2 separate regions of the Homo sapiens genome follow, and region 1 is linked to region 2. The links come from fine-mapping of genetic effects on gene expression. A gene starts in region 2. The other region holds a variant in brackets. All regions are shown on one strand. Distances are between the middles of the regions. Region 1 overlaps CHUK (component of inhibitor of nuclear factor kappa B kinase complex). Region 2 holds the start of BLOC1S2 (biogenesis of lysosomal organelles complex 1 subunit 2).

Evidence for each region. PIP is the estimated chance that this variant, and not a neighbour inherited with it, causes the effect.
Region 1: its variant is fine-mapped to the expression of BLOC1S2 in follicular helper T cells (Schmiedel 2018, PIP 0.93).

The regions. Positions count from the first base shown.
Region 1 is chr10:100,195,945-100,201,480 of GRCh38, reverse strand. It overlaps CHUK (component of inhibitor of nuclear factor kappa B kinase complex), which reads left to right. Exons shown (of 21, transcript NM_001278.5): 15 at 701-810; 16 at 1,461-1,510. Among named protein-coding and RNA genes, the nearest start is that of ERLIN1, 13 kb to the right of the region's middle. The variant G/A (reference allele first, on the strand shown) is at 2,468.
Region 2 is chr10:100,284,085-100,289,084 of GRCh38, reverse strand. BLOC1S2 (biogenesis of lysosomal organelles complex 1 subunit 2) reads left to right here and starts at 2,405. Exons shown (of 5, transcript NM_173809.5): 1 at 2,405-2,480; 2 at 2,872-2,988. The coding sequence starts at 2,426. PKD2L1 (polycystin 2 like 1, transient receptor potential cation channel) reads left to right here. Exons shown (of 16, transcript NM_016112.3): 15 at 29-113; 16 at 607-936. The coding sequence ends at 689. RefSeq lists a silencer at 2,289-2,488 and enhancers at 2,779-3,078, 2,664-3,171.

The DNA.
Region 1 (5,536 bases), 88 kb after region 2:
ACTGGTTTAGATAGGATGGCTGCACATCCTGGTTTACCTGGGACTGTCCCAGTTTATACTTAATGTCTTGCCATAATTATCAGTAGTAGTCCCTTTCACTCTCAAAATTATGCCGGTTTGGACAATAAATTATATGGTGTCCCTAGGTATAGCTCATTCTCTAGGTGGCAGATTTTTTCCCCTTATCCTGTACATTTGTCCACGGTCCTAAGTTATTACACTCCTTAATGTCAGTACTTACCCTGAGGATGTGGGTGGGGATACCCATGGTGTCCTGGGGTGGGAAATCCAAGTTCTTTATCTTTTTGTGTCCCTATTCAAGGTAGTGGGGACCAGGGGGCAGTCAAAATCATAGAGCCAAGATACAAGTAATACCAATGGTTTTGGTGGTCCTTTTTCTTTCTTGTTAGTTGATACCTGTTGTAGCTTTTTGCTTCTCCGGAGGTAAAAGCAAATACTAGTAGTTTACTGTTGTCAGGAGAGAAAAGAGAGAAGACTAAGACTAAGTATGTTCTTATGTGAAAGATTAAGTGTCAGAATCTGAAGAATAGAAAGGCTTTAACAAAATCAGTGTTTCGTATTATATTATTTAGTTCTCTAATGAAGCAGCAAGTCATTCTGTATCCTTAAGATCTGAATTTTGTTTCCTATGATGTAGTGGTAAGCCTTTCATTTCCTTTGTATTTTCATCATATTTTAGGTTGGTGTCATTGGATACCTGGAGGATCAGATTATGTCTTTGCATGCTGAAATCATGGAGCTACAGAAGAGCCCCTATGGAAGACGTCAGGGAGACTTGATGGAATCTCTGTAAGGATGCACTTGTGTTGTTGGTCTTGACATCTGTAATATTTTGTATTCTTTCTGCTTACATCTGGCAAATTAAACCTCTAGTGGTTCTTTTCTATAGTTTTCCTTTCCCCAAATATATTGGCATTATATTTAAAATGGAAGCTTTTTCTCAGTCACAGGAAACTTCGGAAATAATTCTTTGGGTTGGCCTTTTTTGGTTTTTAATAAAAGCATTTATTTCATAGGAGTGTTAAGAATTTTCCAAGTATAACTAAGTTACAAACTATTTCCCTACTCATTATACCTCTGGTCCAAGGTATTGACTCTTAAATGCCCTAAAACTTGAAATTTTTTCTGAATTAAAGTTCTGGATTAAAAACTTCAGATATTTTCTCGAATTATAGGTCATAATTTTTGTCTTTTTAAGTGTCTGTGGTGCAGAGATGTCCCCATGATAGATCAGAATAGATATGAACTATATTAAACTTTGCATTTTAAGAACTTGTATAGTTCTTATTACTCAATACAATGCTCTGTGAAATACTTGTTGGCAATATGAACTTGCTTTAAAATGGGTTCATTATTCAAATAAAATATTGTTTCAAGTTGTAGATTATTGAAGTCATTAAATTACCTTCACTTATCAGAGCGTGTTTTCTCTTTTATAGGGAACAGCGTGCCATTGATCTATATAAGCAGTTAAAACACAGACCTTCAGGTAAGACACTTCTACCACAGTGCTTGAAGGCATTTTAGGTAACTATCACTAGCCTAACAAATGTGGGGGATCTAATATTTTTAAGTTAAAAATTTTCTTAAAGCTGCAGAATAAATTCCAGTTTTGGTATTGCCATTGAGACATGGTATAATAAGCTTTAAGATTGTGAGAATTTAGGAGATGATAAAGAGAAAGTAACAGAGAACGTGAGGTAGAAAAATTTTAGAAGGGGACGTGAAAAGAAAGAATGGAAGACAGAAAAAAGGAACTCAGAGAGGAAAAAGCAGCAAGAAAATGTTTAGAAAGATGGAAAAAATAAGTGTTGCTTAAGATTAGAGAGGTTGGGCCAGTTGTGGTGGCTCATGCCTGTAATCCCAGCACTTTGGGAGGCCAAGGTGGGTGGATCACCTGAGGTCAGGAGTTCAAAACCAGCTTGGCCAACATGGTGAAACCCCATCTCTACTAAAAATAGAAAAGTTAGCTGGGCATGTTGGCATGTGCCTGTAATCCCAGCTACTTGGGAGGATGAGGCAGGAGAATCGCTTGAACCTGGGAAGAGGAGGTTGCAGTGAGCCAAGATCACACCACTGCACTCCAGCCTGGGTGACAGAGCGAGATTCTGTCTCAAAACAAAACAAAAAAATATTATAGAGGTTGGAAAGAATTTGAGGCAGTGGGTTCAGGTATGGAATGGTTAGAGGGAAGGCCTGTGCTGTTCTAGGCCAAAGCAGATTGCTTTGAAAATAATGCCTTCATCTGCACTGGTCACTGATGACTTGTTTTGTTGGCAAAATAATTCCAGTTGAACATCTGCTAAATACTGAGCAAGGTCTGCTGGAAAGAGTACTGGATGGGGAATCAGAGGCTTGAATTCTAGATTGAGTAATTTACTGACCGTTACCTCAGGCAAATCTGCGTTTCCCATTTCCTTCTTCTGCAAAATGGGGTTGAAACCTA[G/A]CTTTCCTACTCAGTGAGTATATTGTGACAGTGTATTTAAGAGGATGTTTGTGAAAATGCTTTGAAAACTATAAACTATTATGTACTTGCAAGATATTATCATTTAGTTAAAAATTTGTTTTGAAGGGTAACAGAAGAAATAAAGTCTGTGCCCTAATGTGCATTATACTTAAATGCATGTTAAAAAAAGATATACTTTTACACTTTAAAATTTGTAGACACATAGCAACACATGCAAATTAATATACATGTGAAATTGTATTTCATATACTATTTTCACATTTAAAAAATAACATTATCTCCTCTTATACTGCTTTTATTTTACTGAAATGTATTCAGTTTAGTCTGACCAGCAGTTCTCAAAATGTGGCATATGGACCTGTGAGAATCCTTGAAACTTTGTCAGAGAGTCTGTGAGGTTAGAACCATTTTCATAATAAGATGTTATTTGCATTTTTCACCATGTTGACATTTTCATTGATGGTGCAACATAAAATGGCTTTCACCTTAGTATGAATCAAGGCACTAGCGCCAAACTATGCTAGTAGCCGTTATATTTTTTACCACCATGCAGTCACAGTTTTTAAAAAATGACAGTTTCACTTACAAATGTCCTTGATAAAGCAGTAAAAATATTATTTTATTTAAATCTCAACGCTTGAGTATGGGTTTTTAATATTTTGTGTGATGAAATGGGAAGTACTCATAAAGTGTTTCTTCTATACAGTGAAGTATGATGGTTGTCTTAAGGAAAACCACTTCAGTAATTGTTTACGTTGCTAGTTGTCTGGCCTCTTTCAGGGAAGATACCATTTTTACTTGGAAGAGCAACTGTCAGGCAAACTATGATTATTCAGATTTGCATACGTGAGATAATTTCTAAGAAATTAAATGAAAATAAAAAGTATAGCACACTTATTACTTTAAGGGAAAAAAGCAGTATTTGTTGTCAATGATAAAATTCCATGTTTCAAGCAAAAAGAATTTTAGAAAACTTGTATTTACCAGCTGGAATGACAGCTTCTCAGTACTTAAAAACTTTTCTGATGAGATTAGTGGTGATATCAGAAAGGTTTGCAAAAATGTAAAACAGTGCAAGTGTTCTCACTCAAATTTTTTTGTTTTAGAAAATATCGTTTTTTGGTTTTTGTTTTTAGAGGTGGGCTCTTGCTATGTTGACCAGGCTGGCCTTGGACTCCCTGGGTTCAAGTGATCCTTCCACTTCAGGCTTCCAAGTATCTCAAGTAGCAGTAACCAGTGAAAGGAGGTGGCTCTCGTAGATATGAGTATACTGTGTAGACACATGTATGTATAGCACTTAGCATGTCTGAGGAAATGCAGTATGACTGGAGTGTAGAGTTTCAGGAGAGAGAAAACCTAAATATAGGAGAGAGAGAAAACGTAAATATAGGTTTTTTTGTTTGTTTTTAATAAAAACATGTTAATGGGCAATAGGTTTGTTATTTTTAAATGAATTAAGACACGAGTATTTTTAAATTTCTGTTTAATTCCTGAAAAACCCTTTGGGGTTCTCAAGAATTTTCTAGTGTAAAGGGGTCCTGAGACCAAAAAGTTTGAGAACTGCTTATCTAGACTATTCTCAGAAGCTTGGCTGCTCAGGAAAGAAGAGAGGTGGGTGAGTAGCTAAAAGTTGATGTAGAGTCAAGGGAGGTCACTTCTCAGAAGGAAGACTTAAACATGAGGTGCCACATGATGATGTTTTGGTTAACAACAAATTGTGTATACTATGGTAGTCCCATAAGATTATACTACTGTATTTTTACTATGTATTTTCTATGTTTACATGCACAAATACTTACCATTGTGTTACAGTTGCCTACAGTATTCAGTACAGTCACTTGCTGAACAGGTATGTAGCCTATTGTCAAAAGGCTATACCATACAGCTTAAGTGTATAGCAGGCTGTACCATCAGGGTTTGTATAAGTATTCACACAGTGACGAAAGTGCCCAATGATGCACTTCTCAGAACATATGCTCAGGGCCAAAAAAGCCTGTGGAGAGGGAGGTCCCTGAACAAGTTGAGAGATTGGCTCCAAAGAACAGTAGGAGGGATTAGCCTTGATACTATTGATATTGGAAAGAGAATGAGTGTGGATACAGATACTTTTTTGGGAGTAGAGGTTGGAAGATCAGGGTCTTACTGCCTTATGGCCTCTTATCCTGCAGTGGTAAGTGAGGTTAACTGAAATGGAAGAGGTGACGACCTCATAGATTTGAATAGAGTGCTAAAGACTTCTAAAAGCCACTGTGTGCAGTGGAAGATGTTGTTGACCCAAAACATTCATTAAGAATCCAGGCCAGGTGGCTCATACCTGTGATACTAGCGCTTTGGGAGGCTGAGACAGGAGGATCGTTTGAGGCCAACAGTTTGAGACCAGTCTGGGCAACATAGTGAGACCCTGTCTCTACAAAAAAATAAATCAATAAAATTTTTAAAAAGCTGGGTGTGGTAGTGTATGCCTGTAGTCCCAGCTACTCAGGAGGCTGAAGTAGCAGGATCGCTTGAGGCCCAGGAGGTCGAGGCTGCAGTGAGCCAAGATTACACTACTGCACTTCAGCCTGGGTTGACAGAGCAAGACTTTCTTAAAAAAAAAAAAAAAAAAAACCCAGAGCAGAAATGAAAAACCTGTGAATTAGCAGTGACAAATAGTGAACAGTAATATTAATTTTTTGTTGATAATTTAGTAGCTTGGATACAGGAACTGATAGAGCAGATGGTTGGATTAATCCAAGGTTAGGATTTTGCTGATGGAATAAGAGGATAAAAAGGTTGAAGATGTTAACAAATAGTGATTTAAGTGATAGAAGTTGTAGCTAGAGTAAAATATTAAAATCTAAGATTTCAAATAGAGCAAGTCCAATTCTTTTTCTTTAATCAATATTTCTGGGCCAGGCGTCGTGGCACATGCCTGTAATCCCAGCCACTTTGGAGGCTGAGGCAGGAGAATTGCTTGAACCAGGGAGGCAGAGGTTGCAGTGAACCAAGACTGTGCCACTGCACTCTAGCCTGGGTGACAGAGCTAGACTCCATTTCAAAAAAAAAATT
Region 2 (5,000 bases):
ATGATTTGTCCCTTTCTTCTTCCAACAGAAGGAACAAGCTATTTGGAAGCACCCGCAGCCAGCCCCAGCTGTGACCCCAGACCCCTGGGGAGTCCAGGGTGGGCAGGAGAGTGGTGAGGAAGGGGGCCTAAAGCATCAGACAGCAGGCTTCCCTCCCTCTGCCTCCGCACAGGCCCCCTCGCCACATCCCCTGCACTTCTAGGACAACAGGTCCCATCATGGCTGCTGCTGAGCCCCACCCTGCATCTGGCCTTTTGAGCCAATGTTTCTGTGTGTGGTGGGCATCATGCTTAGGCTTGTGAATCAGTGTTTCTGTGTGTTGCCACATAGCTCTGTGAAATAACGTCTTCCACTGGGCCTTTTACTCCCTGTGTACTTAGCTCTGTGTGTTAATTAAAAAAAAAAAAGTTAACAAACAGGATAAAGAGAGGGAGGGTAATGGCTCTTCCTAAGCACCTGGATAGCCATGGTCTGTGAAAAAGGTAGAAACCAAGAGAGTAGGCGGTATCTAGATGTCTTCCTACTTCCCAGTGAATCCTATTCTTATCCTTTGTGCATCCCAAGATTTGTTGCTAGCACCCATGGGTTTCTCGTTTTCCCCCACAGAGGTTCCCTATAAAAGAGAAGAGGAAGCCTTAGAGGAGAGGAGACTCTCCCGTGGTGAGATTCCAACGTTGCAGAGGAGTTAAGTGTGAGGCACTCCCGGAGCAAAGTCTATGAAGGATCTTCTGCAAGAGGCTGCCTCCTGGTCCACTGAACCTGGAAACTGAGTGGGCTTTAACCAGGAGATAAAAATGGAGCCTGAAGGGAATCAGGCAAGGAAATGAACTCAGGATTCAGAGATCTTTGAATTAATATGTGGTGGGTTCTGACATTATTCTTCCATAAGACCATGTGGGTTTCCATGGTGGCTATCAATAAAACTCCTTAGGAAAACTTGGACTTTGCATTTGCTTCTGGTATTATAGAGGGAAGAAAGGCTGAAATTGTGGGTCATCCATGTGCCTGGGCTGGAATAGGTTCATGCTCTCTAGGAGGTATAGAGTAGGTGCAGTGATGTGAAGGAGCTGGGCTATAAGAACTTCTAGGCCTAGCACAGTGACTCACGCTTGTAATCCCAGCACTTTGGGAGGCTATGTTGGGTGGATCACTTGAGGCCAGAAGTTCCAGACAAGCCTGGGCAAAATGCTGAAATCCTGTCTTTAATAAAAATACAAACAAATTAGCCAGGTGTGGTGGCGCGTGCCTGTTATCCCAGCTACTTGGGAGGCTGAGGCATGAGAATCGTTTGAACTCGGGAGGTGGAGGTTGCAGTGAGCTGAGCCGAGATCACGTTACTGTACTCCAGCCTGGGTGACAGAGCGAGACTCTGTTTCAAAAAAAAGAACTTCTGGCTCGCAGGAATGGCTTGAAATAGTGGCTACTATGGTTGCACCATAGGAAAAGTGGGGACAGGTGACAAGTGAGACTCAGTCCTCAGGGTGGAGACAGTCAGGGTAGGAGGGCTGGGGATAAGGGGTAGCTGGCGTGTGTGTGTATGTACTGGCATCGGGGTGGGGTGAGAGGGTGCAGAGGGAGGATAACCAGGGATAAGAAAAGAAACTACCAAGATTTTGGGTGTCCAGGAGCCTGCCTGAGGCCTGCTGAATATCTCCTATCCCTTCTTCTGTGGCCTTTATCCCTCCTCATTTTGCACCTTCAATTGCTCCCCAGTCACTTCTTCTCATCCATCTCTTTCACTCACTCCTGTTCTCCCATCCCATTAAGTACTCTGTACACCTAGGAGGCTTGTGAAACAGCTTAAATGCAATTAAGATAACCAGAGTGTATCCTCAGCCCTAAAAAAGTTACAGTCTAAGCTTTCTTCAAGGAAGGCTGTATCAACTGAAGAGAAGTAGATGCCTGCCTGCAGTTTAAGAAATAGGGGCCAGTGAGTTGGTGTTAACTCAGGACATTGGGAGGGACAGTATTTAGGACCAGGGATCAATGCCTGAAGGTTTCCCAAAGTGTGGACGAGACAACCTGTAAAACTTTGGATTCCCTGAGCAATCTTTTGATGACTAACTCCAGTGCGGAGTGTCAGGAGAGCGGGCAATCCGTCTTCAGTGGTTTTGGTCAGCAGGCCACAAACAGGGTTGACTATTCCCAGACGGGTCGTGAGTGGTACAAGATGAGTGATCCCTCCAGGGTGTGACTGTAGGGATGAGCTCGCCCTCAGTCCCAGACGTCGCGACTGTTGGCAGTGGATCAATTCACAACAGCCTGGCGTAGCTTCAATTTCGGCTCCGGAATCGCCCTTTGCTGTGTCATAGACCTGAGGCTGGACTGGACCGCTAGGCGCAGGACTGCAGGGCCGGCCGGGTGGGCGGGGCACACCCAGTGCGCATGCGCAGCACCCCGGCCCGGAAACAGCGCGGGGTCCGCTATGGCGGCGGCAGCCGAGGGCGTACTGGCGACCCGGAGTGATGAGCCCGCCCGAGGTACCCGGAATGGATGGGGAGGAAGCGTCCGGTGGGGGGCCTGGGGCTCCGTCTCGGGTGGGCGAGGTTGAGTGTGTGGTGGCTCACCTGGCAGGAACGGGCTGGTGAGAGGAGTGCACTTGTCGCTGCGCGCGAGTGTTTGTCCTGTCAGGGTGACTGGGATGGTGCCAGGATGAGCGGGGGTGCCGGGTATGGGCGAGGGGCGGTGCGAGGGAGGCGAGTTGATGTGTCAGATGGGCAGGGACGCAGTGAAGGACTTGAAATTATGGCAGATGGAGAATGGAGCCGACTTGATGGAATGAAGGCAAGTGGAGGGATGTCGGAACAGGCTGCTTTGGCTGGATTAGCACCGGGTGTAGGCGGGACACTTAGTCATTCTCCCTTGGCCCAGACGATGCCGCCGTGGAGACAGCTGAGGAAGCAAAGGAGCCTGCTGAAGCTGACATCACTGAGCTCTGCCGGGACATGTTCTCCAAAATGGCCACTTACCTGACTGGGGAACTGACGGGTGAGGCGGGGTCTGGGTTGATTCGGGTGCGGTTTGGCCCAGGAGGCCTGGGAGATGGTTAGCAGCATCAGTCTGCAGCTCCCTTCCTACCCTGCATGCCCTGAGACAGGCCTGTTGGAAGTTGGGGGAGGCCATGAATGGGAGAGAAAGAAAATACAACTCTGCAGGCCTCTGTAACATAGACTAATGAGAAAACAATAACAAAAAAGAGTTCATATCCAGCAACAGTAATCAAGAAGTGCTTCCTTGGGGAAAGTGTATTTTGAGCAGGGTTGTGAAGGGAATTATTGGTGGAAAAGGGGGAGATGATACAACTAGCGAATGAGGTGGTATGTGCAAGCAGTGTGTTTGGCTAAAGCAGAAGATGTGTTTACCGGGATAAAGAGAAATGAAATTGAGGAACGGGGAGTGACCTGCAGATTTAGGGACCTATTAGTTTGGTCTGAGGATTTGATAACCCATCCTTTGGGACATGACTAGTGTTTGATCGTTTCCAAGTGGACACATGACCTATGTGTGGAGGAGGATCAGAAAGTGAAGTATGGGCAGGGCGCGGTGGCTCATGCCTTTAATCCCAGAGGCCGAGGCTGGTGGATCACTTGAGGTCAGGAGTTTGAGACCAGCCTGGGCAAAATGGCGAAATCCTGTCTCCACTAAAAATACAAAAATTAGCCGGCCGTGGTGGCGGGCGCCTGTAATCCCAGCTACTGGGGAGACTGGGGCAGGAGAATCGCTTGAACCCAGGAGGTGGAGGTTGCAGGTTGCAGTGGACTGAGATCACACCACTTGCACTCCAGCCTGGGCGACAGAGTGTGACTCCATCTCAAAAAAAATGAGAAAGAAAAAAGAAAAAGAAAGAAAGTGAAGTCTGGTCCAGTACAGCATCTCAAAAACATTTATTAAATTGTTTCACTTCCCCAGGAAATTACTGTAAGCTAAATTTGTGAATCAGAATCTATGAGAAAAGGCTTGATACAGAATAGTAGGGGTTGTGAATCTGTAATTTTTTTTTTTCTTTTTCTGTTTTTAAGAGACAGGGTCTCACTATGTTGCCTGGGCTGGTCTTGAACTCCTGAGCTCAAGTGATCCTCTTTCCATCTATTTTGGTTGATGGCACCACCCAGGCTTAAAACCCCAGATACATCTTAGTCTGCTTCCATCCCTCAATATCTACTTGAACAAGTCCTATAAATTCCACTTCTGTAATGTTCTTGCACCCATGCTCTCCTTTCCATTCCTTTTACCACCACTCTGCCTGAGATCTTCATTACTTTTCTTTTATTATTATTATTATTTAAAAAAATATGGCCAGGCACGGTGGCTCATGCCTGTAATCCCAGCACTTCGGGAGGCCTAGGCAGGTGGATCACCTGAGGTCAGGAGTTCCAGACCAGCCTGCTCAACATGGCAAAACCCTGCTTCTACTAAAAATACAAAAATTAGCCAGGTGTGGTGGCACACGCCTATAATCCCAGCTACTCAGGAGGCTGACACGGGAGAATCGCTTGACCTGAGAGGTGGAGGTTATAGTGAGCTGTGATCGTGCCATTGCACTCCAGCCTGGGTGATGGAGGGAGACTCTGTCCTAAATAAATAAATAATAGAGATGAGGTCTGCTCCGTTGCCCAAGCTGGCCTCAAGTGATCCTAACACCTCAGCTTCCCAAAATGCTGGGATTACAGGTGTGAGCCACTGCACCCAGCTGTGACTCTGTAAGTTATCAGCCTGATTATTTGTTTGTTTATTTTTGAGCAAGAGAAACCAAGTAACAAAATGTAGGTGTTTGGCTTCTCTTTAACAATTCCAAAGATTTGGCGCTACTAGCCCCTGCATTCTTTCAAGGCTATAATTGACTAGAGCTGAGCAGCTGCCTCTTAAAAGGACTAGTGCTATCTAATTTGTCCTTACCACTTTCTGTTTTCTCCCTTTACTGGGAACTAGTGTCAAGTGCCATTGATCACTGTTCTCTACTGTTATTTTTATTAGTAGCAGTACAGAAATGGTTTTCTATA